Homo sapiens: one gene and its partners. The protein of the gene in region 4 purifies or fractionates together with the protein of the main gene of each other region. This does not show direct contact. Each region holds a gene or a part of one and is shown on either strand. Other genes may lie near its edges.

What was found. The genes of interacting proteins can lie anywhere in the genome.
Region 1: the proteins of MSI2 (region 4) and PHYHIP purify together in Homo sapiens (affinity purification with mass spectrometry; one large-scale study listed by BioGRID and IntAct). This does not show direct contact.
Region 2: the proteins of MSI2 (region 4) and FKBP1A fractionate together in Homo sapiens (co-fractionation; one large-scale study listed by BioGRID). This does not show direct contact.
Region 3: the proteins of MSI2 (region 4) and USP10 purify together in Homo sapiens (affinity purification with western blotting; one study listed by BioGRID). This does not show direct contact.

Annotation. Positions count from the first base shown.
Region 1 is NC_000008.11:22,222,100-22,225,942, forward strand, and holds part of PHYHIP (phytanoyl-CoA hydroxylase-interacting protein), read right to left. Parts: intron 3,118-3,843; exon of another isoform or gene 2,343-3,117; intron 2,245-2,342; coding exon 2,127-2,244; intron 1-2,126. UniProt on the Homo sapiens protein: Its interaction with PHYH suggests a role in the development of the central system.
Region 2 is NC_000020.11:1,386,555-1,390,397, forward strand, and holds part of FKBP1A (peptidyl-prolyl cis-trans isomerase FKBP1A), read right to left. Parts: intron 1-3,843. UniProt on the Homo sapiens protein: Keeps in an inactive conformation TGFBR1, the TGF-beta type I serine/threonine kinase receptor, preventing TGF-beta receptor activation in absence of ligand.
Region 3 is NC_000016.10:84,748,157-84,751,999, forward strand, and holds part of USP10 (ubiquitin carboxyl-terminal hydrolase 10), read left to right. Parts: intron 1-3,843. UniProt on the Homo sapiens protein: Hydrolase that can remove conjugated ubiquitin from target proteins such as p53/TP53, RPS2/us5, RPS3/us3, RPS10/eS10, BECN1, SNX3 and CFTR.
Region 4 is NC_000017.11:57,612,687-57,616,872, reverse strand, and holds part of MSI2 (RNA-binding protein Musashi homolog 2), read right to left. Parts: intron 904-4,186; coding exon 789-903; intron 1-788.

The DNA.
Region 1 (3,843 bases), on a different chromosome or scaffold from region 4:
GAGAAGAGATATGAAGCTGTCACTCCCCAGCTTGAAACCCTTTGATGGGGTGTGTGTGAAAAACACGGCGGCTCATGATCTGATCTCTGTGGTCTCCTTGCCACTCCCCACCTCCTGCCACCCCATCCACTTACCCACCCCCTGCACACACAGTCTCCTGCCTCCGTGACCCCTATGCAGGACTCTTCCCTCTGCTGCACTGACTGCCCTCTCCACCTTCCTCCGTCTGGCTTGGCAAACTTCTAATTAGCCTTCAAGCTTCAGTCAAGCGTCTGCTCCCCTCTAAAACCTCCCAGGAACAGCAGACACCTGCACTTGACAAATTTTTGGCTTCCTACTATGTGCAGGACACCCAATCTTCTCACTATGTTGCCCAGGCTGGACTTGAACTCCTGGCCTCAAGTGATCCTCCTGCTTCAGCCTCCCAAAGTGCTAGGATTGCAGGTGTGAGCCACTTCACCTGGCCAGGACACTGAACTGTGCTCAACAATTACACGTACTTTTTACATGAAATCTTTCCATACTGTCTCTCTGACTGGATTCTGAGGTTCTCAAAAGAGTGAACTGTGCCTTTATCTTTACATCCTGGCACCAAGTAAGGTGCCTGGCACCCATGAGTGCTCTCTATCTCTCCCACTCTCGCTGATAAAGGAGCCCAAACTGGGCCACTGACTTGCTTTCCAGGCTGGAGTGCAGTGGTGCAATCACAGCTCACTGCAAGCTCGAACTCCTGGGCTCAAGCAATCCACACCCGGCTAATTCTTTAAATTTTTTGCAGAGGCTGGGGTCTCACTATGTTGCTCAGGCTAGTCTTGAACTCTTGGGGTCAAGAGATCCCATCTCGGCCTCCCAACGTGGTAGGATTACAGGCTTGAGCCACCAAGCAGGCCTTGCTTCTTTAATACAAACCCCAAAGACTCCCAAGGTCCTCACTGCCCTGAGGTTAAAACTGCCCTGACTGTAAGGATAAAGACAGACAGAGGCCGGGCGTGGTGGCTCATGCCTGTAATCCCAGGACCTTGGGAGGCCGAGGTGGGCGGATCACCTGAGGTCAGGAGTTTGAGACCAGCCTGGCCAACATGGTGAAACCCCACTTCATTAAAAATACAAAAATTAGCCGGGCATGGTGGCGCATACCTGTGGTCCCAGCTACTCAAGAGGCTGAGGCAGGAGAATCATTTTAACCCAGAAGGCAGAGGTTGTAGTGAGCAGAGATCGCGCCCCTGCACTCCAGCCTGGGTGACAGAGAAGACGCCATCTCAAAAAAAAAAAAAAAAAAAAAGGCAGAGCAGCTGCTTGCCCTGGCTGAGCCTCAGAAGGATGCGGCCTTGGAGCACTTGCCAGCAGGCCCGGGGATGGTGGGTACTCCTGGTCCTGCCTCACATTGCCTGGTCCTGGCTGTCCTCAGTAACAAGTGACTCCCTGGCTCGAATGAACAAGTGCTTCCCTCTGGGCCTCAGGCTCCTCTTCTGTAGGCTGAGGGTGTTGGATCAGATCACCAATTTTCAAACACTTTTGGACTGCAGCAACTCTCTTTTTATCCCCAAAAGAAATTATACGTGGAAGGGTCACAGGCAAATAAAATTGAGGCTACTCTGACTGGAGGTCAGGTGTGGGGCCCACCAAGCCTCAACCTCTGGTCCCCCCAACCCCATGGCAGCATTCTAAGGGGTTCACTGACATGTCTCCCTGGAGGGAGCACCCAGTTTGAAAACCGACGAGCTGGGTGCTTCCTCGAACCCTTTGTGATCAGAACACTCATTTTGTGCACTCCCTGCCACCTTCCCTTTGGCCCCAGGGCCTGAATCGGAGAGACCTGTGGTGGTAGACCCCTGTGAAAGGAACTGTCCCAGAGTGGGAGCAAACCCAGACCTCATTCTCCCAGGCTCATTAGTACAACACTCTTGCAGAAGGCCCTGTCCCCAGAGCCCTTGATCTTCCCTGAGCCCAATCCCCAAAGTAGCAGTCTCTTCAGAGCCAGCCTGGTGACGTCAGGACATGTCAACCCTAGAGGAGGGACTGGCAGCCACGAGGGTGGGGGTGACCTCAGACAGCCAGGACAGGAGCAGGAAGGGCTGGGAGGGAGGAGAGGCCCGGCGGGTCCAGCCGGGAGCCCGCGCCCATACCTGGCATGCTGGAAGTACTCCTTGTGATGGTTGCGGTAGAAGACGGAGAAGCGGAGCATGCGGCCTGCGATCTGCTCAGCTTTCTCCTGAAGCTGAGCCAGGTGCTCCTTGGCATAATCTGCAAGATCCCAGATGCGGTAGGTGAGCCGAGGGCCAGCTGAGGAGCACAAACACCTCCTGTCCCCACCCCACCCCACACTGTGTGTGCCGGCCAACCTCTGTCCGCCAGAGCAGCAGGGGAGACTAGACAGTCGCAGAACCTTAAACTCAGATGGGAACAGGCCAGCTGGCCTCTGCTGGAAACACAGAGCGCTGCATACTGTCTGTCGTCATCACCTCTGCAACCACATTGCCAGAGGCTCCGGGCTCTCCGGGTCAGAAAAAGGCAGAGGGCTGCCCAGTTATCCTGCCAGGGTCCTCAGGGGCTGTGATCCCAGGCCATCCTCATGTGAAAAGAGGACCCCTGGGAAAAAGGAAGACTTGAGACGGGAGGGCTTGAGGTCCTTTTGGGAAAGTCTCTCAAATACAGTAGATAGGAGGCTGCCCACACCACCCCCATGGAAGCCAGCTGTAATTACAGGTGACGGCTCGTGAGGGTCTAGGGAGAACTGAGCCCAGGCAATGTTTAGGCAGTCCTGGGTCTGGAGCAATGGCTCTCAGCTTGAGCATCTCAGGAGAAACAGGGAAGGCTGGAAACAGGATAGCAACATTGAACCCTGGGGCCCCAGCAAGGCTGCTGCTGGCACATACAGCTCCTTGGTACAAATTAGAAGATGCCCTTCCCTCTTTGTGGCTGCATCCCTGGCCAGGGTGCTTGGTTTGGAGAGAGGAGTGTGGACTGGATTGCAGCCAGATCTCCAATTTGAATTAAATGCCCACTGCACATGGAGGTCTCAGGGGTAAACCAAGAAGCTTTCCCCACCAGGAGCAAGAGGCCTCCAGAGAGTGGGGTTCTGCAGCAGAGCTAAGAAAAAACACCACTCAACCAGCAGCAGTGGTTCACGCCTGTGATCCCAGCACTTTGGGATCACTTGAGCCCAGGAGTTTGAGACTAGCCTGACCAACATGGAAAAACTCCATCTCTACAAAAAAATATCAAAAATTAGCCAGGAATGGTGGCATGTGCCTGTAGTTCCAGCTACTCAGGAGGCCAGGAAGCTGAGGAGGGAGGATGGCTTGGGCTCGTGGGGAGGAGGTTGCTGAGGCTGCAGTGAGCCATGATCATGCCACTGCATTCCAACCTGGGCAACAGAGCAAGACCCTGTCTCAAAAAATAAAAATGAAAAAGGCCAGGGATGGTGGCTTATGCCTGTAATCGCAGCACTTTGGGAGGCCAAGGCAGGCAGATCACCTGAGGTCAGGAGTTCAAGATCAGCCTGGCCAACATGGTGAAACCCCATCTCTACTAAAAATACAAAAAAAAAAAAAAAATAGCCAGGCATGGTGGTGGGCGTCTGTAATCCCAGCTACTCAGGAGGCTGAGGCAGGAGAATCGCTTGAACCCGGGAGGCGGAGATTGCAGTGAGCCGAGATCACGCCACTGCACTCCAGCCAGGAGGCGACAAGAGCGAGATTCCATCTCAAAAAAAAAAAAAAGGCAGAAGGAGAAAAAAAAGAAAAAGCACCACTCAAAAGACAACAGCAGCTCAAGGAGACTTGGGGCATAAATCTTGGCAAAGGATAGAGCCAGCAGCCTCAGAGGCCCGGGGCTGAGAAT
Region 2 (3,843 bases), on a different chromosome or scaffold from region 4:
TGCATTGTTGCAGAATTAGAAGCATGCATGTATGCATCCAAAGTGTTACTTAAGCTGTGCTATAAAGAAAAGAGCCTGTCATGCAGTGGGGAGTGGGGGCAGTGTGGTGGCACCTAAGCAAAGGGGCAGAGACCTCCATGTGGGAAAAGGCTTGGAGCATTCGAGGAATGAATGCAGGCCAAGGTGGCTTGAGCTCCTGGGAGAGGAAGAGCAAATGTAACAGAAAGAGACAGTAGCATCTAAGAACTGGTTATTTCTACCTCCCCGACTTTCTGCACTGCTAGAATACACCTGGTCAAAATCAAAGGGGTCCAGGGGAGGGAATGCAGAGACTTGGTTAAGCTTTTTAGCAGGAAAAGAAAACAAAAAAACAGAAGAAAAAATAGAAGTAAAAATAAACAAATGTCACCATGAGCACCAAAGGGAGAACTGAATGCTATGTGATTAAGTTATTCATAACCTTGGCTTCTTCCATGGGAAACAGCAGGTGACAATATTTTTAGAGAAAATTCCAAGGCAGACAAATGATTTCCAGTTTATGGATACAATAAACCCCTCAGTAATTCATAAAAATCAGTTTAAGCCTAAAAATGTTCTAGTTAAAACATCTATGAGTAAATAGGTGAATTTATGGTATGTAAATTATATTCAATAAAGCTGTTACCAAGAAAAAAAAAGGTCATGGACCCCACTGAAAGGAACCAGAGCTCTTTGAAAGATGGCTGATAATTGGACCAGAGTAGTGAAACCGAGAAATGGATGAAGGAATGGTGGGAGCCTGTCAAAAAGGTACTGGAGCCAGCTTAAAGGGCTCCTACTGGCCAAATTTAGGATGATATTAGCATCAAAAAGAATAATGGGTATCATTGATCTTAAGGCCCTGACAAAAAATTTCAGCCCACAGTACAGTCAAAGCAAATAGAGGGGGAAAAAGTCACTTGCCCCCACTGGGAATGGCAATACCCCATCAGTTAACATTCATTTTTCATTTTAAAAATTGGTAATTAAAGGCTGGGCACGGTGGCTCATGCCTGTACTACCAGCACTTTGGGAGGCTAAGGAGGGTGGATCACTTGAGGCCAGGAGTTTGAGACTAGCCTGGGAAACCTGGCGAAACCCGTCTCTACAAAAAATACAAAAATTAGGACAGGTGGCATGCACCTGTATGCCCAACTATTCAGAAGGCCGGATGGGAGGCCGGGATGGGAGTCTGGGAGGTCGAGGCTACAGTGAGCCATGATCAAGCCACTGCACTCCAGCCTGAGTGACAGAGACACTGTCTCAAAAAATAAAAATAAAATTTGGTATTTAAAGGTAAAGAATTACTTTACCTTATCTTATAGAAGGATAACAGCTAATAAATTTAGAAAGAATGAAGGAATTTTAAAAATCAACACTTTGTGAATGCCAGTGACTTCTTCAGGGGAGAATGATCAGATGGTGTAAACACCACTAGGTGAAAGGCTGATGAGCAAGAGACCATCTATGGCTACCTAAGCACTCCACAGATCACTGCTAAATGCAAAGGGAAAAATGTACCTTTACAGAAAAGATCAAATTTAGCATCACAACTAGTGATGTTTCCCATGTGTGCTGAGGATGAAGTACTCACACTAAAATGTTTAAACGGAATCTATTCAGACACTTAAAAGATTAAACATCCGGTTCAGAAAATCAAGGCAGGGAACAAGTTAAACAATACCATGAGAAAACAGTAAGACAGATGTGGAGTATTCTATAACTAGCCTGCTCTCTTTGAAGAAATCAGAGTTATTAAGAAAAAAACAGCGTAAGGACTCTTCTAGACTGAGATTACAGACATAACAACTGCGATGAGTGAGGCTCAATGGAACTGTGGTTTTAAAAAAGAGCAACACTTTGGAGACAACTGGGTAGTCTCGATAGGCATTTGCTTCACAGCAGGCATCGTTACTCCCATTTTATAGACAGCATGTGGAAGCTGGGAACTGTGGGACAATTTGTTCAAGCTCTCATAGCCCGTTGTATGGCAGGGTCAAGATCAGAACACAGCGAAGAACCCACATGCTCTTTGGGGATCACTGTCCACCTGGCACCACTTCTGCCCACTGCCTGAGCTGGCACTCCACACACCTGGGATACAACCAGTGTCCTGTTTCTGCCTTTGCCCCCAAAAGCCCATTGTCCACACAGTAGCCAGAAGGAGCGTGGGTTGGGGGGGCGGGGGCGGGCATTAAAAGCCAAGCCAGCCAGTGGCTCTCACCTGAGTTAGAAAAAGGCAACGTTTTTATAAAAACCAACGAGGCTCCACCATCCCCTCATCTCCTGCCACATACCCTTTCACACAATCCACTTCCTGTTCCTCTAACGCACCGGTCTTCTTACTGTTCCTCTAATGCACCGAGCAGGCTCCAGCCTCAGGGTCCTGCACTAGCTCTTCCCTCTGCCTGGATACTCTAGACAGCCCTGTAGCTCCCTCTCCAATGTCCTTTGAGTGAATGTTAAAATGCCATTTTTTTCAGAGGCCTTTTCCAATCACCCTCACGAAAAGCAGCCAACTTCCCTTCCCATCCCTCACTCTGCTTTAATCTCTCCAGCGCTTCTTACTACCTGATGTGCTCCATGGCCATACTATCAGTCTCCTCATCATAAGCAAAGCCCCACCAGATCAGGTCTTTGTCTATTTAGTTCACTAGCCATGTCCCTAGAGCCTGGCTTGCTGCTGTTGCTCAAAAAACATCTGCTGTGGGAAGGCAAAGGGACTTGTTGCAGCCCTGCCCAACAGTTACAGCCTGTGTGCCTCAAGACAGCACACGTCAGGGGAAGCCATCTGAGGCATCTCTGCTGAGGGTGAGCCTCCCTCCAGACATCAGATCACCAACCAAGAGATACCTAGCAAGGGAGTGGATGGAATAAAGCAGAGGAGAGGGGGGAACAAAGCTAAGGAAAAGCAAGGGGCTTGAGGGAGGCTGCAGCAAAGTGGCCACACCTGTCCCGGGAGCCTCAGCAGCCTTCCCAGTCAACCTCCTGAGGACATGAGGTTGAGGGGCTCCTGGTTTTTCTCAGTCAGAAACCGGGAGGCTATACCTGACTTAAACCTGATCCCAAGGACAAAATGTCCAGTTAGTTACTTTTTAAGAAGAAAAAAGAAAACATTCCTTCAATCCCCTTGGGGCTGCTCTCACAATGGCAGGCACACGGCCTGCTGAAGTAAGTAAAAGAGGTCTAAACCTAGCTGTGTGCCAGGACAAGCTAACAGTAAAGATGACGAAGCTACTGGAGGCAGCAGGGAGGCGCCATGAGAATTCCCTGGCTCCTAAAGGCACTTACTTGGCAGCTTACCTTTCCACCACCTCCCTCCCACCTCAATGCCTGTCATGCTCCTAGGAGATGCTTAGCTGGTGATAGTGAACTTTGTATTTTCCCTCTGGTACCACAGAGGTAGTGCAGGCATTCCTTTGAGGCCTTGCTCATGCTGTGCTCTGCCAGAAGGTCACGGAAGTCACCAGAGGGACCCTTGAGAGTGACATCAAGGTGACTGACAGCCATTAGTGGCATTTAAAGCATCCATGTGGTAAAGGTCAGTCTGTGCTCTGCACACCTGTGATGGCTAAGGGGAGATTTTGGCCACCTTACTTCCACCCCTCTTTCTCTGGACCCGTGCCCAAATCAGCTGAGTGGACACCTGGCAAGAGCTGACTGGATCAAGAGTGTTCACCTTACTCAAACTCTCCTTCTCAGAGAAGTAACAATCAGAATCACAGCCAAGAAATCTGAGCCAGATACTCAAAAGAAGACAGAGAAGCTGGCCATGGGGAGGGGGGAGGGGGGAGGGGGGACGGGGGAGCATGCAGGGGACTTCCA
Region 3 (3,843 bases), on a different chromosome or scaffold from region 4:
AAAAAAAAAAAAAAAAAAAAAGATAGATTGTGTAAGCCTTTATATAGATTACTAAGTTAAAAGTTTATTTTTAACCTATAATGAGAAATGCATGGTGGGGTCCTGTTAAAAATGTGCATTCTAAGTTCGAAGTCATGAGAATTTTATTTTCTTTTCTTTATTTTTGAGAGGGGGTCTCACTCTGTCGCCCAGGCCGGAATGCAGTGGCGCAATCTCGGCTCACTGCAACCTTCTCCTCCTGGGTTCAGGCAATTCTCCTGCCTCAGCCTCCCTAGTAGCTGGGACTACAGGTGCCTGGCACCACGCCAGGCTAATTTTTGTATTTTTAGTAGAGACCGAGTTTCACCATGTTGGCCAGGCTGGTCTTGAGCTCCTGACCTCAAGTGATCCTCCTGCCTCAGCCTCTCAAAGTGCTGAGATTACAGGCGTGAGCCACCGCGCCCAGCTGAGAATATTATAGTTTCGTTTCTAAAATTGCTCCACAAAGGAAAACCTCCCATCTTAGGGAGATTTTCTCTATCTTTATTTAAAATAACCAAGAAAAGCTTCATTTAAAATGTTTTAGAACATTCTACTTAGTCATATGACTTTAAATATAGTTTGATAAATAGTTTGTTATGTTCTGTATATGTTAAAGTCTAATTGAAGTAGCTTTGTCAAACACTGAAAGTAAGGGCCTCTTAATGACTGGTAGTAGAGGAAAGCCTTGCCACACACAGTCCACGTAATTATTTTTGTGTGGACATATTGTAAACCCCTACCAAACAGATTATTTTTTTAATCCTATTTGGTTAGGTCAGTTATGAAGATGTTTTAATTTTCTGAGCAAAAGTGTAGTTTCTTTAAAAATATATAATTCTTTTCAGCCTGTTTGTTGAGGCTTCGATAGACAGAACGTAGTTGTTGACAGTTTCAGGAGTCTCGTGAGATAGTAGAGCAATAGAGTCACATTGAATAACCCTTGGGATCATATAGGGCTTAGGGAGAATGGCATTGTTTGAAATTTTTTTTGTTGTTTTATTCTCCTACTTAGGGATTTACTTTATAAAAGTGGTAAAACATACTCAGTTTGTTACAAGTCAGATCCACTACCACAAATTCCCTTTAGTGGGCACACTTTTAAGTGTAGGCCCACTTATTTTAAGCAGCGTTTAACTGAGTGAAAGTCTAGTTTCATTAAAAGATCTGTTGATGTGGGTTATAATAGAGTTTGACTTGCATTAGTATCTAACTGTTTCTACTGAGACAGTGGTATTTGTGTTATTAACTTTTGGGAAAGAGGGAGTAGGGAATGATTTAGACATTAAATGTATTCCTTTCTGCCAGGCATGATAGTGTGGAGATTGAGGCTTGAGGCTCGATAACTTGAGCCCGGGAGTTCGAGGCCAGCCTGGGCAACATACTGAGACCCCATCTTTAAAAAAAAAAAAAATTATACACACACAAAATGCTTGGAATAATTTGTGTATTTTTTATCTCAAGTTTGTTTCAAATACTCACATTTCTGGACTATTTCCCCTATTGTTAAGTCTGCTTAATAAATGCCAGCTAGTTTTTATGCCATCAGAAGTGAAATTAAGAAGGCAGATGGACTAAAAGAATCACGTATAAGGGATTTTGAAGTGAAATACATTAAACTCTTGATTACTCTTAAACTATCCACTTTAACGGGTTCTACTTGGACCTTCTTGGTGGCAAGGCCATCTCCTCGGTGTAGGTTATGTGTCAACATTTTGTTCCATTGGCTGTTTTTCAAGTGTGAACTGTTATTTGAAAGGAGAAGGACACGCCAGGGGAGAGCGTGTGAACTGAATACTCAGTGATTTCCTTTAGCCCCAAGGGAAGGATGTATCTAAACACAAAAGCCCTGTCTTGCCGAGGGTTGGAGAGGGATCTGTGTTTCAGTGACTGGTCTGAGAGGAGATGGTTGCCATTTATCAGTAGGAGTCAACAAAAGGAAACTTAATACAGCCCGGCACAGTGGCTCACGCCTGTAATCCCAGCACTTTCGGAGGTTGAGGTGGGTGGATCCCTTGAGGCCAGGAGTTCAAGACCAGCCTGGCCAACATAGGGAAATCCCATCTTTACTAAAAATAAAAAAATTAGATGGACGTGGTGGCTCATGGCTGTAATCCTAGCTACTGAGGAGGCTGTGTCAGGAGAATAGCTTGAACCGGGGAGGTGGAGGTTCAGTGAGCCCAGATCGTGCCACTGCACTCCAGCCTGGGCCACAGAGTGAGACTGTCTCAAAAAAAAAAAAAAAAACCCAAAACTTAATAGCTTGTGTTTGAAAGTAGTTGCAAAACGCGACACCCTTGTTAAGAGTGAGTATGGCAGACACGTGGGGAGTGCCTTTGCTGCTGCTTCCCTCATTAGCACAGATACTTTGGAGTTGACGAACATGTGACGTTTGAAATTGAACGTATGCTTTCATTGAACATTGTACTTTTCCTGGGTCTTTACTAAGGAACATTCCTCATATACTAGACGAAATTGTATCAGATGCTTTCACATCACAAATAGAGCCATTTTGTATTTGATGTTTTGCTTTCAAAATTATGCAACAGTATATTTTGTTTTAACAGAATATAAATAATGCTGGGTAAGAAGAGTGGCCAACTGCCCGATAAGTTAAAATTCCAGTGAGAGAGAACTAGGAAAACTGAGCTCTTGAACAGCTCTGAAAACATTGCGTTGAGGTATCTAGCAATGTCATTTATTATGAATTGTTAGTCAAAACCTGTTTATATGATTTTTCACAGTGGTTTTATACCTAAAAGGCATTGGATCAAGAAACAAAGTTATTACAATTTGGGTCTTCTCTAATGAATTACCCTGTCCGTGTTTATTTAAGTGTAAATGAACATACAGTTATGTGCTGCTTTAATGATGTTTCAGTCAACAACAGACCGCATGTACGACAGTGGTCCCATAAGATTATAATGGAGCTAAACAATTTCTAGTGACCAGTGAGTTGTGTTACAGTTGCCTACGGTATTCAGTACACAACATGCTGTACGGGTTTGTAGCTTAGGAGCAATAGGCTCTAGCATATGGCCCAGGTGTGTAGTTGGCTATACCATCTAGGCATGTGATCCCACAATGACAAAATTGCCTAATGCCACATTTCTCAGAACATATCCCCATCATTAAGCATGGCTGTGTATCCTAAAACTGATCTTTATTTTGGCAGTTTATAAATCATGCATATATTTCCCCCCGCTCCTTGGGGGAAATGGTTTCTCAGATATTTTGCACTTCCTCTTCAAACTCTGAAGTACACAGGCAGTGGTCATGCGGCGTGATCTAAGTTAAAAAGGCGTGGCACCTGTTTACCGGGATCCACCCTTGTGGACTGAGAGTTTAGTCCACATCTGATTCGATGTTTGTAGCCTCACATTTATTATACATCTTTCCACTTCAGAAACATAAGTTGATCTGTAGTCAATGGGTAGTGGTACATTTTGGTCACTTTGCTGTCCTCCACCTGGTTAGATAACCAAGATAGTGTGTGTTCTTCCAAATTGATGGTAATGAGGAAAAGAAAAGCACTTGGAGAATGTTCTGGACAGTTAGAATGATGACAGAAAAGCAGGTCAACAACACCAGAATGTCGATTACGGGCCAGTTATTGAGCCCTAAGAATCAGAGTTCTGTACCTTGCATTTTCAGGGATTTTCAATGTTAATATGACCCCTAAGTCCTAATTTTAGGAAAACAGAATTTGATGTGTAAAATATGTGTAAGAATAATCATAGCTTATGATGACATAAAAGTTTACGATGCTGGTATTGCCTTTGAGTTGATAAACAATTTCAGTGGGCTGATTTGTGGCAGCCCTTG
Region 4 (4,186 bases):
TACCATTCTCTCGCCTTTAAATTTCTAATTATTGTTGCGACCTACACCATTACGCATCTCCACTGCTTTCTCCATCTTTCATGCCATTTAAGCGGTAAGATTTTCAATTATCTACGCAGGACGGACAGAGATACTTTTAAGGAAAGGGACATAATATGCAACTCAATTTCTCTAAAAGCCAGGAGAAATCATTTTTAGTCAGAACAAACACACTTTGTCTTTCATCTTTTTTTTTTTTTTGGCAAATAAAGAGTAAAACAGGCTATTTAAAACATCCATTTAAATGCAAATTTTGATATCCCAAGAGAAAAATGTTAATCATTTAAATAGACAGGATTATCGCCCACCCTTACCACTTCCCTCCTCTCCCAAGTTTTAGAAAACGTAGCCTTAGCCCACACAAGTCAAGTCAGCCAGGAGTCCTTACATCTTAAGAACTCCCACTCAGATGAGAGGGCTGAGGCAGATAGAGGGGGACTTTTCCTTCTTTTGAGGAAGGAGATGGAAAAGAGAGAAAATAGTCTAACATATCCTATAAGCCAGGCATGGGGCAATATTATAAATACAAACACACACACACACACACACACATGCATGCACACACACACACCCACACTTAATCATCACAACTGTCTTGGAACGGGGAATTATCATCCTCATCTACAGACAAGGAAACTGAGGCTTAGAAAGGTGAAGCAGTTTGCCCCACTGGTAGGTGACCCAGTTGGGAGTAGAGGCCTCCATAGCCCTCCCAGTCCATGGTGACCTGCGGTCCTGTCCAGACTCACCCAGCATCCCCATGCCAAGCATGAACGCGTCCATGGTGTAAGGCAGTCCCCGGGCCCGGCCTCTTGTCCCAGGTGGGAACATGACTTCTTTCGGCTGAGCTTTCTTACATTCTACCTGTTAAACAGAAAGGCGAACAAATGAGATGCAAATGAATTCCACGTAAATGTCAAATGCAGAACCTGTCTGGTTATGAGCTAAGTTATTTTTAGCCTTGCTCCTTACCCACTGTAAAAATAGCCATGCCGAGTAAATGGCCTGCAAAATAAATACTTAAGAAAACACGCCACTTGTGCAAATCCTGCTTCGGAAAAACCTACAAGGATGAAACTGGGTTCTGGAGGGGTGGCAAGGACGTAAGCTGCAGATATACACACAGATTGAAGCTCAGGCTGACGCTCGTGCAGAAAGCATGACAGATAAGGAGGCAGACAATGGCTGTTGGATGTGTCTGTGAATAATAACAACAATAGCAATAATAATAATCCCTCAGGATTTTTCAGCCCTTTACACATTTACAAATGCCCCTGACATTCTCTCAGGCCAGTGACTCTTCATGCCAGGCCATCTGATTCAAACTCTTATTAAACAGACAGACCACTTAGCCTTAGCTCCAGTTCACAGATGAGAAAACAGAGCATCAGAAGTTTTGTGTTGGCTGGGCGTGGGGGATCATGTTTGTAATCCCAGCACTGTGGGAGGTGGAGGCAGGTGAATCAGCTTGAGCCCAGGCGTTTCAGATCAGCCTGGCAACATGGTGAAACCCCGTCTGTACTAAAAAAATACAAAAAACTAGGCAGGTGTGGTGGCACACACCTGTAGTCCCAGCTACCTGGGAGGCTGAGGTAGGGGGATCACCTGAGTCTGGGAGGTCAAGGCTGCAGTGAGCCATGATCACGCCACTGCACTCCAGCCTGGGTGACACAGCGAGACCCTGTCTTAAAAAAAAAAAAAAAAAAAAATTCTTGTGCAACATGCTGAAAGCCCTCCCCAACAGGTTCAGGCCTACAAACCAGATCTTTAGAATTTCTAGGTCAGCAATGCCACATTTCCACAAAACCTACACCACCACCACACTCCTGAGGGAAGTAATAAGATTAAACACTGATTCTGTTCATCTGGATTACTAGTTTCTCATTTGCAGCTACATTTTCAAGTGGTTGCTAATCTCCCCTTTCTGTTTCCCTTCTGACTCTCAAATTTCTTCATGCTAATCTGCTTGTATACCCAGAGGTCACTTATTTAATAACCTTAACTATGCGAACTATAAACCTCAGGGAATAAGTAAAACTGTGGCCCTCGGAAGCTCCTTCACTGTTTTACCAGAGCGCCTTAGGCCTGTGCTTATTAGCACTTATTTGCTTTTTGTTTACAGAGAAATTTAACAAGCATTGTTAGCCAGTCATCAATCCCACTGCTGATGAAGATGGGATGTTGCAGGGTAAGGCACGGATGCTTTTAACAGCCAAAAGAAACAGCATGGCCGCCTGATAGTGACGGAGAAAAGACAAGAAACAGGTATCTTATTTAAATGACGGAGAAAAGACAAGAAACAGGTATCTTATTTAAAGAGCAGTCTGGGCCATATGGTATAGGAACAAAAGCTCTACATAGTTCAACAGCTGCTGAGGTATCACTGTAACACAGAAAATTGCTATTGTTCACAGGTGTGCCTGAGATAGCAAGAAAAAGTTAAACTGTGTGCAATATACATTGTTTAAACAGAGACCTCTAGGCCGGACGTGGTGGCTCACACCTGTAATCCCAACACTTTGGGAGGCTAAGGCAGGCAGACTGCTTGAGTCCAGGAGTTCGAGACCAGCCTGGCTATCGTGGCAAAACCCTGTCTCTACTAAAAATACAAAAAAATTAGCCAGGTGTGGTGGCATGCTCCTGTAATCCCAGCTACTTGGGAGGCTAAGGCAGAAGAATCGCTTGAACCCGGGAGGTGGAGGGTGTAGTGAGCCGAGATCGCACCACTGTACTCCAGCCTGGGCGACAGAGCGAGACTCTATCTCAAAAAATAAAAAAAATAAATAAAACGAAAATAAAAAAGGAACCTCTATGGGTTATCCATTTTGGAGATACTCACATCCCAAATACTTCAATCAAAAAATATTTTAGTGCTCAAGGTTAGGGGGATGCTATAATTACCTAAGATATAAGTCACCTTTCTTCAAAGACACCGGACAACAGGTATTACTCTTGCTCTTTCAAGAATAACCACAAATGCCTTAAAAAGTGGACAAAATGGTTCAACATTCATGACTAATATGCTTAATACAGAGTTCTATAGATTAAAAGAGATGAGCATCCCAAAACAGACATGGGTAAAAGACAGGAGTAGACAATTCACAGACGGCTAATAAAGAACACATTCCCCAAGATGAAGCATATTTTTTGCCCACAGATTGACAGTGATGAAAGCATTGTTTGATGTAAGGGTTTCTGACGGTATAGTGTGGAGGGGTGGAAATTGGCACGTATTTTTCTGGAGGGCAACCAGACACTACATCAAAAGCCATAAATTTATACATACACCTAGTAATCTTACCTCTAGGAATTTGCCCTACCGGAATTAGAATTTTTTTTTTTAATAAAAGGAAATACCTAAAATATAGAAGAACAGGGAATTAGCTGAGTTTGGATTATCCACACTGATTGAATGCTATGCAGCTATGAAAAAGTGTGTTGATAATAATCATGCACTGGTACTGGGAAACCCCTCAGTCCCAGGCAAACCAGGATGATGGGTTTCTTTAACTGCAAGCGGGAAAACAGCAAATGTCACTGACTTTTTGAAAAATAAACAAGTGCATATATCATATAGGGAAAAATACTGAAAAGACATACTAAAGTTGTCTTAGAATCACTCTGTTTTTAAATTTTAATTGGGCATTTTGCTAGTTATTTTCTAAGCTTTCTGCTAAGCAACAGGGAGCAGGTTTTTGTAAGATAATGCAATAGACTGTCACTGATAGGGCTATTAGAATATTGTCATTGCAGGTAGGGGGGAAAGGTGATTGAAAACAACAAACTCATCCAAATTGGCTCTTTTAGGTTTCTCTCCTAAGCCCAGGGGTGAAAACTGGCTTCAGGACTCCAGAGGAGCAGGCTGAGAAATCTCATTTGCATGAACCTGCCCCAAGCCTAGGAAGATGGGCGTGTCTCGCACAGGCAGACAGATAATTACCCAAAGCCAACACCAGCAAGGGGAATAATACCGCTAACCAGCTCACTTCCTAATAGCCCTATCGGTGACAATCTACTGCATTGTCTTATGAAAACCTGCTGCCTGTTCCTAGGCAACCCGATCAACGGAAATCTCAGGTTTATACAATTTTCATTTAGGGAACATAAAGGTTAACTGACTGTAATGGGAGTGTTTTAAACAAACCCA